2 separate regions of the Homo sapiens genome follow, and region 2 is linked to region 1. The links come from fine-mapping of genetic effects on gene expression. A gene starts in region 1. The other region holds a variant in brackets. All regions are shown on one strand. Distances are between the middles of the regions.

Region 1 (5,385 bases):
CAAGGTCCCCCCAAAGTCCTAATCTATTGTAGTATCAACTTAAGTCCAAAAATCCCATCTAAATCTCATCTGCTGAAAAGACCTAAATGATTAAATCAGGTATAGTTGAGACTTTGGGTATGAACCATCCTGAGGCAAAATTTCTCTCCATATGTGAAGCTTTAAGACTAGAAAACAAGTTATTTGCTCCAAAAATACAATGGTGGAACAGGAATAGGGTACCAGTTACAGATATTCCTGTTCACAAAGGGAGAAAATGGAAGGAGAAAAAGCCAAGAAATTTCAAAAATCTGCAAGGCTAACTCCATAGGTTTTAAGGCCTGTGAATAACCATTTGTGTCTCTAGGCTCTGCCCTCAGAGTCATCCTTCATGAAAGATAGCACAAGTTTGGGGCTGAATAGTTTTATCAGACTGTTTATTGCTTATGGAATTTTGGGAGTCCTATAACCGTCTTTCATTTTATTCTCTCTCTGTACCTTTCAGTTCAAGCTGGCAGTGTTTCTGCTGATATTCTCAGAAATCTTTTGGATTTCCTGTGTATGTCACAGAGATCTTTTTGAAGCACTAGCAAAAGGTTGTCCAGCTGTACTCATGACTTTTTCTCCAGAGTACGTTTTCCCAGCAGTGAGTCTCTTACTTTTACCATCCTTTGCAGTCTTGAAATCCTGATAATTTCCCACATTATCCTTGTCCTGGTTCCTTTTTGATAATAGTCCTTCCCTCTTATAAGGACCCTTCTGATTATATCAGGTCCCCAGATAATCCAGGGTAATTTCCCCATCTCAAGATTCTTAGGAATATCTGCAAAGTTCTTTTTGCAACAGAAGATGACATATTTATAGGTACAAGGATTAGGACATAGATGTCTTTGGGAGACCATTATTCAGTCTACCACAGCTGTAAATAGAGAGAGGTTAACAATATAGGAATGGAGTGAGATTCCTGAGGAAGCTGGAGGTAACCAACTCAAAAGGGAGTGGTTATATTGTATGTGGAGCATGTCATGGGCTTCTTGGACTAGATGGAGGTGTCAGACAGTTAAAAGGAGTCTCTTTAAAACAGATATATTCTTAGTGGACTTGAAGAGAACAGCAAGATGCTGTAGGGTTTTAAGGGCCACTGTAAAAAAGATCAGGAACCTATAGTCATAAACAGTAAATCTGAGGTGAAAAATATTAGACAATTTCCTTCAATGTCCTGGTAAGGGCAAAAAATGGTTTACTAGATTGAGGTGATCAAGTTGCAGTGAAGGTGCAGAGGAAAGAGAGTGGATGAAGCAGTTGAGAATGTTAGTGAGAGGAAGGTTCAGTGCCTGTTCACAGAGTTGATCCTGGGGAGGTGAAAGAGTGGGGCTCCTAAGGAGACTGAGAGATTGAGGCAAGGGGGAAGTCTCTAAAAAGTGGAAATGGAGTTTATGATTTTCAAGTTTCTGGATAATGTCCAGGCTGGAGTTATGGTAACATATTATTAAAGTGGAAGAGAACTGGATATTGATTTGGAGTAGAGTCTGCTTATGTGCATTGTACATATACTTTGCGGTGGGAAGTGGGATGTGTGGAGTTAACATCTAGGGAATCCCCACCTGATACATCTATATCTTTAAGAGAGAAAAACAACAGCAGACAGTCAATTATATTAAGAACATGTAGGGCCCACTTCTACAACCAAAAGAGGAAATCCCCATTAAATTGTATGTGCTTTGGGGGAGGAATAATGACACTGTAGTATTTAAAAGAACTGGAATGAGATAATATATACAGAGAATATTGTAGATATTATCTTTGGAATTAAATTTTGAAGTCTTGGCTACCATTAACTACCTGTAGGGTCATCGACAAGTAATTGAATTCTCTAAGCCTTATTTACCTCATCCATAAAATAGCAACAGTAAAGTTGCTCATGGGATTTCTGTGAGATTTAATGTGATAATACATGTTAAGGGCTTAGCCTATTGCCTGGCACATAAAAAGCTCAATGAATGCTTTTACAGCAAAGCCCAATTTTCTGCTGCTAGCAAATGCATTCTTATGATACAAAGGTCCAGTATCAGATGCTAGAGAGGAATTCATCTGAGATGAACTCATGACTTAATCATGAGTCATTTCAGGTTCTTTCTCAATGTCATCCTCATTGAGAAAGAGAATCATAACTATTTTCAACCAAACATAAAATTAAAGAAAAATCCTGACAGAAGTGAGCAATGTTTTCACCTCCTTTTCGAAGCCACTTTATATTCCAGAGTCTGAGAAAAAACTTTGTTCTTCTGGGCTCTTTCTATTGTGAACAAGTCACTTCCACCCTTTCCTTTTCTTGAAGACAGAACTTCCGGTTTCGATTTCTCTCCATTTATTACCCCATGCCGTTACTGGGGCACCCTCACCACCACCTTGAATCTCAATATATTCTGCACATGCATAACGTCATGGAATTAAGCGTCTGGAGCACTAAAGACCATGATGGGCTGGGGTTGAAACTCGAATTTCAAACATTAATGAGCTTGATGACAAAACTAAAGAGCATTCTTCTTCTCAATTTAAATTCTCTGTGATAGATGATTGGTCTTTCAAATGTTCACACTGGACAGTTATACTATTGGAAATTTTTCATAAAATGAACTTCTTAGGACAGAAACTCAAAGCCCCTAATCCTTTTTTACTCCATTTTTGCCTGTCCAGTACCTTGCCAGAAAAGAAAAACGCCACACCTCACCGCAGACTTTCATAGTGCTTAGCGTGCTGCATTTACTCTCAGCCTCAATTCCTTGTTTAGAGTCCCAGATTTCTCTGCTTTCTTTCCCTTTACAATTACATGCATGTCCCAGATAGCATATCATCGCTTCTACTATTACTTCCCTAAGATTCTCAGAGTAAACCAATGCAGACCTATATTCTACCTCCAGAAAACTGCGGAAATCGAAAAGGCCTCGCGGTGGAGAAAAGAAACCGAAACTAACTCCCTAGATAAAAACTCAGGCGCTGGCTGCTGTGTGGCTCAGAGCGCCCAGTCCGACGCCAGGCTCTGCGCTCGGTCTCCTCTGCTCCACCTCCTCCCCGCGGGGCGTGCAGCTCCGAAGCTCTTTGGACCTAGCAGGTTCGGCGGCCGGGGTGAGGATTGCGGGTGACGTCGGGTGTCGCTAGGGACCCTGGAGCGGAGCTGTCCCGCGGGGGTTCTAGGATTCCTTCAACATCCAGATGGACCGGGCGGGGAGGTGGCCTGGTGGCTTCGTGCGCGCCGGGCGAGGGAAGCTGGGGCGCCCACTGGGCTCGGGCGGCAGCTTCGCGGAGAGGTAGGGAAGAGGGACAACCACCGTGAGAGAGGAGAGTGCTCAGGCATTTAACGGGTCCTCTGCACCCGAGGGGGCCTGGGGATCTGGGGTGCTGAGGAGAAAGTAAGGGTCACCACATCTGAGCACAGCCATTCGAACCTGGACATTGACAGGCAGCAAGCCGCTTCCCTTTTTTCCGTCTTGTATTTAAGCTTTTTTTTTTTTTTTTTTTTTGAGTCAGTCTCGCTCTGTCGCCCAGGCTGGAGTGCAGTGGCGTTATCTCTGCTCACTGCAACCTCCACCTTCCGGGTTCACGCTATTCTCCTGCCTCAACCTCCCGAGTAGCTGGGACTACAGGCACCCGCCACCACGCCCGGCTAATTTTTTTTTATTTTTTATTTTTTATTTTTAGTAGAGACGGGGTTTCACCATGTTAGGCCAGGATGGTCTCGATCTCCTGACCTCGTGACCCGCCCGCCTAGGCCGCCCAAAGTGCTGGGATTACAGGCGTGAGCCACCGCGCCCGGCCGGATTTAAGCTCTTAATAGCGGAAATAAGGTTTTACTATTTCTCTGGAAAGGTACTTTGTTCTTTTTTCCCGCTTCTCTTTTGTTTACAAAGTTACATTGATAAATTTATAATAAACTTCTCAAGGTTTTCCATAATCAAAGAAGCTGACATCATCCGTGATGGGGCCTTAAGGATTATGAAAGCTCCTAATGACTGCTAGAAAAAGCGGTCAGAACCAAACAGAAGCAAGTCCTTTAAAGACACAATAAGAAGTCCAAACCATAACATCAACGACATACAGACCTTCATGATTTCGAGTGTTCTCCTGAAAACAGTAACATACCATTCAATCTAAGATTTGCAGTTTGAAGTTTGGTGGAACTCAGGTGCTGAGAGTTGAGGGTACTAAAATAAATGAGGGTGAGTTATGCTTCCAAGGCTCTTCGCCTTCTATCCCAAAGATATTGGGGATAGTTTAGTGTGAATCCTTCCTGATACTCTACAAAGAGACAAGTTTTTGTCTATAGCTCCTATCTCTCTATCCATCCATCCATCCATCCATCCATCCATCCATCCATCCATCATCCAGCCATCCAACCATCCGTCCATCCATCGATCCATCATCTGTCTATCTCTAGATCCATACACTTTAAAAGATATTTTGGCTGTCATACTGGTATGCTTTTCTTGGTTCATGATTTATTGGTACCTGTCAGTCTTACTTAGTAATTGCTGTATGATACCCCATGGTATGCTGGGTCATAATTGATCAGTTTTATTTGAAGCAGAAGAGAAAGACATAAAACAAAAATTAAATGCCCTTCTCTACTACTTTCCCCTTCATACTTAGTCTCACAGTTTTAGTTCTCCTGAGGCGTTACCACTCCAAAGATATACATTTCTTTCTTGGTTGCTTATAAATTATATGCTTACAAATCAGTCTTTTGTTTTATCTACTTTAGACAGACTCCGACGACTCCCTGTGAAAGAAATACTTCTAATATGAATTATATATTTTTAAAAATTCTTCTCAGGATTAGCTTTATGGCTTTTAATAAAATACCCATGTTAATTATCATCCACGGCTATGTTGATGTGGGTGGAAATCTCTGTGGTTTTCCCTGCTGCAGGCTCATTTTCTGCTTTGTAAGTATGGAGACCTGCTGGTTGATTTACTGATATCACCCTTTTTTATAACCTGCTGCTTGTTTTACTGATGTAACCATTTTTAAGGCAGCTCATAGTTTATTTGGAAATACAATTCTCTAAGAAATGTATCCAGCTTCTTATGCTCTAGTTAGTTCCCTATGCCGTTAATTACACCCAGAGAGTTTCTATTTTCATCCTAATTCCCTCTCAAATTAGCATAATCTGTCTTAAGTTCATTTGAAATGATAGTCTGGCCTGGGAGGGTAACACCTCCACCTAATACTTGCAGCAAGGCTAAGTCCTTCTGTTTAACTGAGAATTCTTTATGAGTCTTTGTTGAGCAAGGTGTTTTTTTTCTTTTTTTTTTGTCCTATCACTTTTTATTTGCAGTACAGAAGCTGTCACCTGTGCGACCCAAATTTCTTGGCTCCCTTCCTTCTTCTCCTCTTTTCCCCTCCCC
Region 2 (5,385 bases), 24 kb before region 1:
TTATTTTATTTTATTTTTTAAGCTTGATTTTGATTTGAGCCTTTTGCAGTTGAGGGACCTTTGGTAACTCTGGTGTTGATGTCTAGGAGATTTGAGATGCTGATCTAGAGCCCAGGAGAAGGGAGAACAGAGCTGGATTGGGGATTATTAGCCTATGGGTGGCACTTTAAGACATGGGAATGCATAAGGTCATCGAGGAAAAAAGAAGGAGAAGATAGAATCCTTCGAATAATCACAGGGAAGCAAGAAAAGCTAGATATCGTGGAAGCTGGGAAAGAAAATATCTCAGGAAGCAGTACATGTCCTTTTGATTTTTGATTTTAGCAACTTGGGAATATTTAGCACCATTGCAACAGCACTTTCGGTGTATGCAACAGAAATATAAGCCAGATTGCTACATGGAAGGAAAGGAAAGAAGGAAAGAAAGAAAATATTACAGGTGTGGTGGTTTGTTTTGAAAAGATCATAGAAAGAAGGAGAGACAGAAGGTAGTAGTTGAACAAAAGTATAGACTCTGGTGAGGTTTGTTCATTTTTAGGATAGAGCGCTGTAACATGTTTTATACAAACCAAATTAGGCAGTAAGAAGGGAGAAGCTGAAAATAAATGTAAAAAAGCGGGGATGATTTATAGGTCAGCTCTCAAAAGATGTAAGAAGAAATGAGTTATTATAGGACAAACGGAGTATGAGGTGTTCAGCTTCCAGTAGGAAGGGGGCAGTTCTTTCATTGTTAAAGGAGAGAAGTAACAAAGGGTGTATGTGTGTTGGGGCATGGGGGGCGGTAAGAGAGAAAGGGAGAGAGAGAGAAACATGAGATTCTCTGCAAAATTTGTAATAGAAAGAAAGGAGAGTTCCCAAACTGAGACTTCTGTGCATTGGAGGTTTATGAGGACAGAAGATGATTTGAAATAGCTGTTGTAGAAAAAGGGGGAAGGAAGTTTTGTAAGAAGGATTTATGGGTAGAGGTGAGGGCCTGGTTGAAGTTAGATGTGATGTATTTATAGTGTCATTAATCTGTGTGATTGTGCAATTCTCTCCACCAGAGCTCAGCCATCCAGGTGAAGGTACAGAGATAGATGATCCCAGTTTGACATGCAGGTAAAATGGGAGGGAAGTGGGCAAGGCCATTGAAAATATGGTCAAGGAATAGGTGGCCTTTGACATATATGCTGGGTTGGAATTCATGGGTAGGAGTTTGAATGTAGAGATTGTCTTTGTTTTTTTGAACCAATGTCAGAGTTGAGTAGTTGCAACAGAGACTATATGGCACATGAAGTCTAAAATATTTACCTGCACTTTTACAGGAAAAAATTGCCAACCCCTTCTATAGAACATTAGCTACCTAATGACTTCATATAACACATATAAAGGCAATTAATGATCACGATGATTGATAATGATAATGGCTAATAATGGACTGCTTACCCTGCGGTGGGCATTGTGCCCAGAGTCATCATGTAGATTATTTCATTTAAAACCCTCACAGCAGCCTCTGGTTTAGAAAGGAGGAAATGGAGGCAGAAAATCTGAGTGGGAGAACCAAGGTTTAAGCCCAGGGAATAACTCCAGAGCTCATGTTCTATGCACTTTACCATCTTACCATTGTAGTTTTCATAATTGAGAATCCTAAGCAATGTATCAAACTAACAAAACTGTGGATCAGAAATCAGAGTTCTGCTATTAATTCAATTGCTTTTTAGTTCCAAATGAACATAATATGATACATTTTAAAACTTCACAAGGAGCATTATATAACAAAGCTTAAAGCAAACTTCTGAATGATGAAAACATTTTCAATTCTTAATGTAGGGAGTGTTTGCTGGAGGCAGATTATCTCACCTGCTTATTAACTCATATTTTGGTTTTAAAGAGGCGCCATCTGACAGGATCCAGTAGTCAGGATTAGGTGTAGCTTTAAAACTGCTTGCACATTGAAAAAGAAAATAATAGTTCTATGGCATATCTGGTTCAGGCTTAATTTGCAAGCCAGTTATTGCCGCGGGAACATGCACGTGGTCTAGGGAAAATGCTCATTCAATGAGGATGAACAAGGGCGGTTTCCAAGCGGGCCAAGTTCACTGGAAAATTGTGCTTCAGAGATTTCCATGTCAGTCAGCACTCCAAAATGAAAAGGTCAAAATCAAAAGGAATGAAACACAATCACAAACATCTCCATCATTTGCCTGAGATTTCATGTTTTCTGTCAAACAGTGCTCTTGGTAATTCTATGCCGGTGTGATAGACACAGAAGATGAAATAGACTAAAAAGACCCACTAATACTGCTGTTAATGAGTGAAGAGGAAATGAGGTAAACACCAACGCCATTAAAGTGGTTCTACTTTAGTAAGTAGCATTGAAAGATTTTGAAATTTTGAAGAATAAAGGATTCTTTGGCATCTTTAAATTGTCCTGTCCCCTGCCTCCTCACTTTTCTCAGAAGGAATCTGAATTTCCTAGAAATTCTTCTGTCTTCTTCTTTTTCTCATCCTTGTCTTATCCATCATCTCCAGCTTTAGCAGTTTAGCTTAATTGTCATTTTCCCTAAAACGCTCATTAGCCACAGCCATTTTTTTTTTTTTTTTGAGTTGGAGTCTTGCTTTGTCGCCCAGGCTGGAGTGCAGTGGCATGATCTCAGTTCACTGCAAGATCCACCTGCCGGGTTCAAGAGATTCTCCTTCCTCAGTCTCCCGAGTAGCTGGGGCTACAGGTGCCTGCCACCACTCCCAGCTGATTTTTGTATTTTTAGTAGAGACAGGGTTTCACCATATTGGCCAGGCTGGTCTTGAACTCCTGACCTTGTGATCTGCCCACCTTAGCCTCCCAAAATGCTGGGATTACAGGTGTGAGCCACCATGCCTGGCCAACCACAACTGTTTTTTAATTTGCTTGAAGTTGCGTAGCATTATGTTCTTCACCATGGAGGAAATGACTCTTCCTTGGCCTCGCCCATCTTACAGTCATGCTTCCTTTCTTCTACTTCCCTTTCCTGG[A/C]ATAGTAAGTTGAACATGAAATCAACGGAACAACTGCTTAGTTGTGCAAGAGAAGCTTCAAGGAGGACAAAGATGAGGCAGGCGTAGTTATTCTCCTTAAATGATCTTACAATCCAGTAGGAGGGATTAGACAAGAGTAAAAAATAACTCAGTTACAAGGAGGAGCGTGATAATTTCTATTAAAATAGTTTCAACAAATTGCAGTAAGGGATAAAAATGGTAAGAGAGATCATAGGTACAAATTGTGTCACGTCACTCTTTTGGTTTTTATTTTTTTCCTATGATGCTCCCCGGCTGATGAGAAAAGTTCCAAAGCACGATGTGCAGGTTAAACATACCCGTGGACAGCCTGAGCTGATGGAAATGCTCCAGCCTCACCCTCTGTCATCACCAACACACATGCACTCAGGCCTCCCTGGCCCACTCACCATTCCTCAAACAATTCAGATTCTTTCTGGTTTTCACACCTTTGCACTTGCTGCTCCTTTTGCTTAAAATGTGCTTCCTTTCTCTTTTTCTTTTTCTTTTTTTTTTTTTTTGAGATGGAGTCTCGCTCTGTTGCCCAGGCTGGAGTGCAGTGGCTCCATCTTGGCTCACTGCAACCTCCGCCTCCCAGGTTCACACCATTCTCTTGCCTCAGCCTCCTGAGTAGCTGGGACTACAGGCGCCCACCACCATGCCCGGCTAATTTTTGTATTTTTAGTAGAGACAGGGTTTCCCCTTGTTAGCAGGATGGTCTCGATCTCTTGACCTTGTCATCCACCCGCCTTGGCCTCCCAAAGTGCTGGGATTACAGGCATGAGCCACTGCATCCAGCCCTCTTTCTGTTTTTCAAACTCCGGTTCATCCTTGAAAACTTTCTTAAATTTTACCACTTTTTGGTGCTTTCTAACAGTTCCCCAATCAATATAATTTGCTTCTTCTTCCAAGCATGTTACTTTGCATTGCGTTTCTCACAGCAGTCATCATATTAAATTACAAGTATTTGTTTAGAGAATGCTTTCCTCATTCAACTGTGAGCCCAATGGAAGCAGGAGCTGTGACTGGCGTCTTTGTATGGCAAATGCTTAGCACACTGGGTTACAGCAGCTGATGGAGAAAAGCTAAGAAATACCGGGTGTTTGAAATGTGGTTTGAGCCCTGGATAGGATTTGACACACATGTGAACAAAGGCACGAGGCAGGAAATGTTCTGATGACTGATTTGCTTTCAGCCTCCCAGAACCTGCTGCGACATTTCTCTGGGACATGCTCTCTTCAGCTAAGTGTTATTCTGCTCTTTTGAGTGAGGGTCTCATTCTGTCTCCCGGCCTGGACTGCAATGGCATGATCATAGCTCACTGTAGCCTTGAATTCCTGGGCTCAAGGGATCCTCCTGCCTCATCCTCCTGAGTAGCTAGAACTACGCGTGTGCATCGTCAGGCCTGGCTAAATTTTAAAATATATTTTTGTAGAAACGAGGTCTCCCTTTTTCGCCTATGCCAGTCTCAAACTCCTGGACTCAAGGGCTCCTCCTGCCTTGGCCTCCCAAAGTTCTGGGATTACAGATGTGAGCCACTGAGTGCAGCTAAACATTATTCTGCTCTTAAACTAGGTTTTTCTTCTGTTTTATCAACTGTTGCTTGTGTCCCGGGCTCTGTTTTCTGGTAAAAACTTGATAGAGTAATCAGTGCTAAATGTTAGTGTATACATATAACACATAACTGTTTGTGTCTACATATAAAATACACTTTACCTGCTCATTTCGCTAAAGCAAAATCAGTCATAGGTCAGACATTGTGTTAAAAAAAAGTATCTATAAAGACGTGGATGTCAGTCTTTCTCATTACCCTCAAAGAAAGTTTCTCATGAAAAAATTTGGAACTAGAAAAGCATTTATTCTATTTTCTGGCAATTCTGTTAGACAAAGAATTCTGTAAACTTTGATGACTCTTTCACACGGATACTAGCAAGCTCAGGGTTAAATTTCCAGTCATAGAAATTCAGATGTTTTTAGCTAAAAAAAAAATTTATTTTGCTTACTTTTCTCATTGTTTTATTCAGTCAGCATTTATTTATTGAGTGCCTACTATGTGCTAGGCACCTCTTTCATAGGCCAGGGACATAGCTGGAAAGAAGATAGATTCTCTGTCCTAGGGAGTTAAGATTCTAAGAAGAGAAAGGACAAAGGTAGTAAATTGAGAAAACATTTCAAGTTCAAAGCTTTTTATACTTGGTTTGATCTGCATTTTCTTAATTGATTTTGGGCAATTGTACTATGCTTTTATTGCATACAGCCTCAAACTAGCTTTGAAAGTTGTTAGGGTGCAGACATATAAGATAAAATGAAGTGCACATTCGCATGTTAATGTTCACATCTACAGACCACTGTTGTTTTGGGGGGCACACCCTTGGC

What was found.
Region 2: its variant is fine-mapped to the expression of DDX60L in whole blood (TOPMed, PIP above 0.99).

What each region holds. Positions count from the first base shown.
Region 1 is chr4:168,478,097-168,483,481 of GRCh38, reverse strand. It overlaps DDX60L (DExD/H-box 60 like), which reads left to right and starts at 2,990. Exons shown (of 38, transcript NM_001012967.3): 1 at 2,990-3,105. RefSeq lists an enhancer at 2,732-2,971.
Region 2 is chr4:168,501,792-168,507,176 of GRCh38, reverse strand. All of the region lies in intron 1 of PALLD (palladin, cytoskeletal associated protein), which reads right to left. All of the region lies in intron 1 of LOC107986198 (a long non-coding RNA gene), which reads left to right. Among named protein-coding and RNA genes, the nearest start is that of PALLD, 7.4 kb to the right of the region's middle. The variant A/C (reference allele first, on the strand shown) is at 2,992.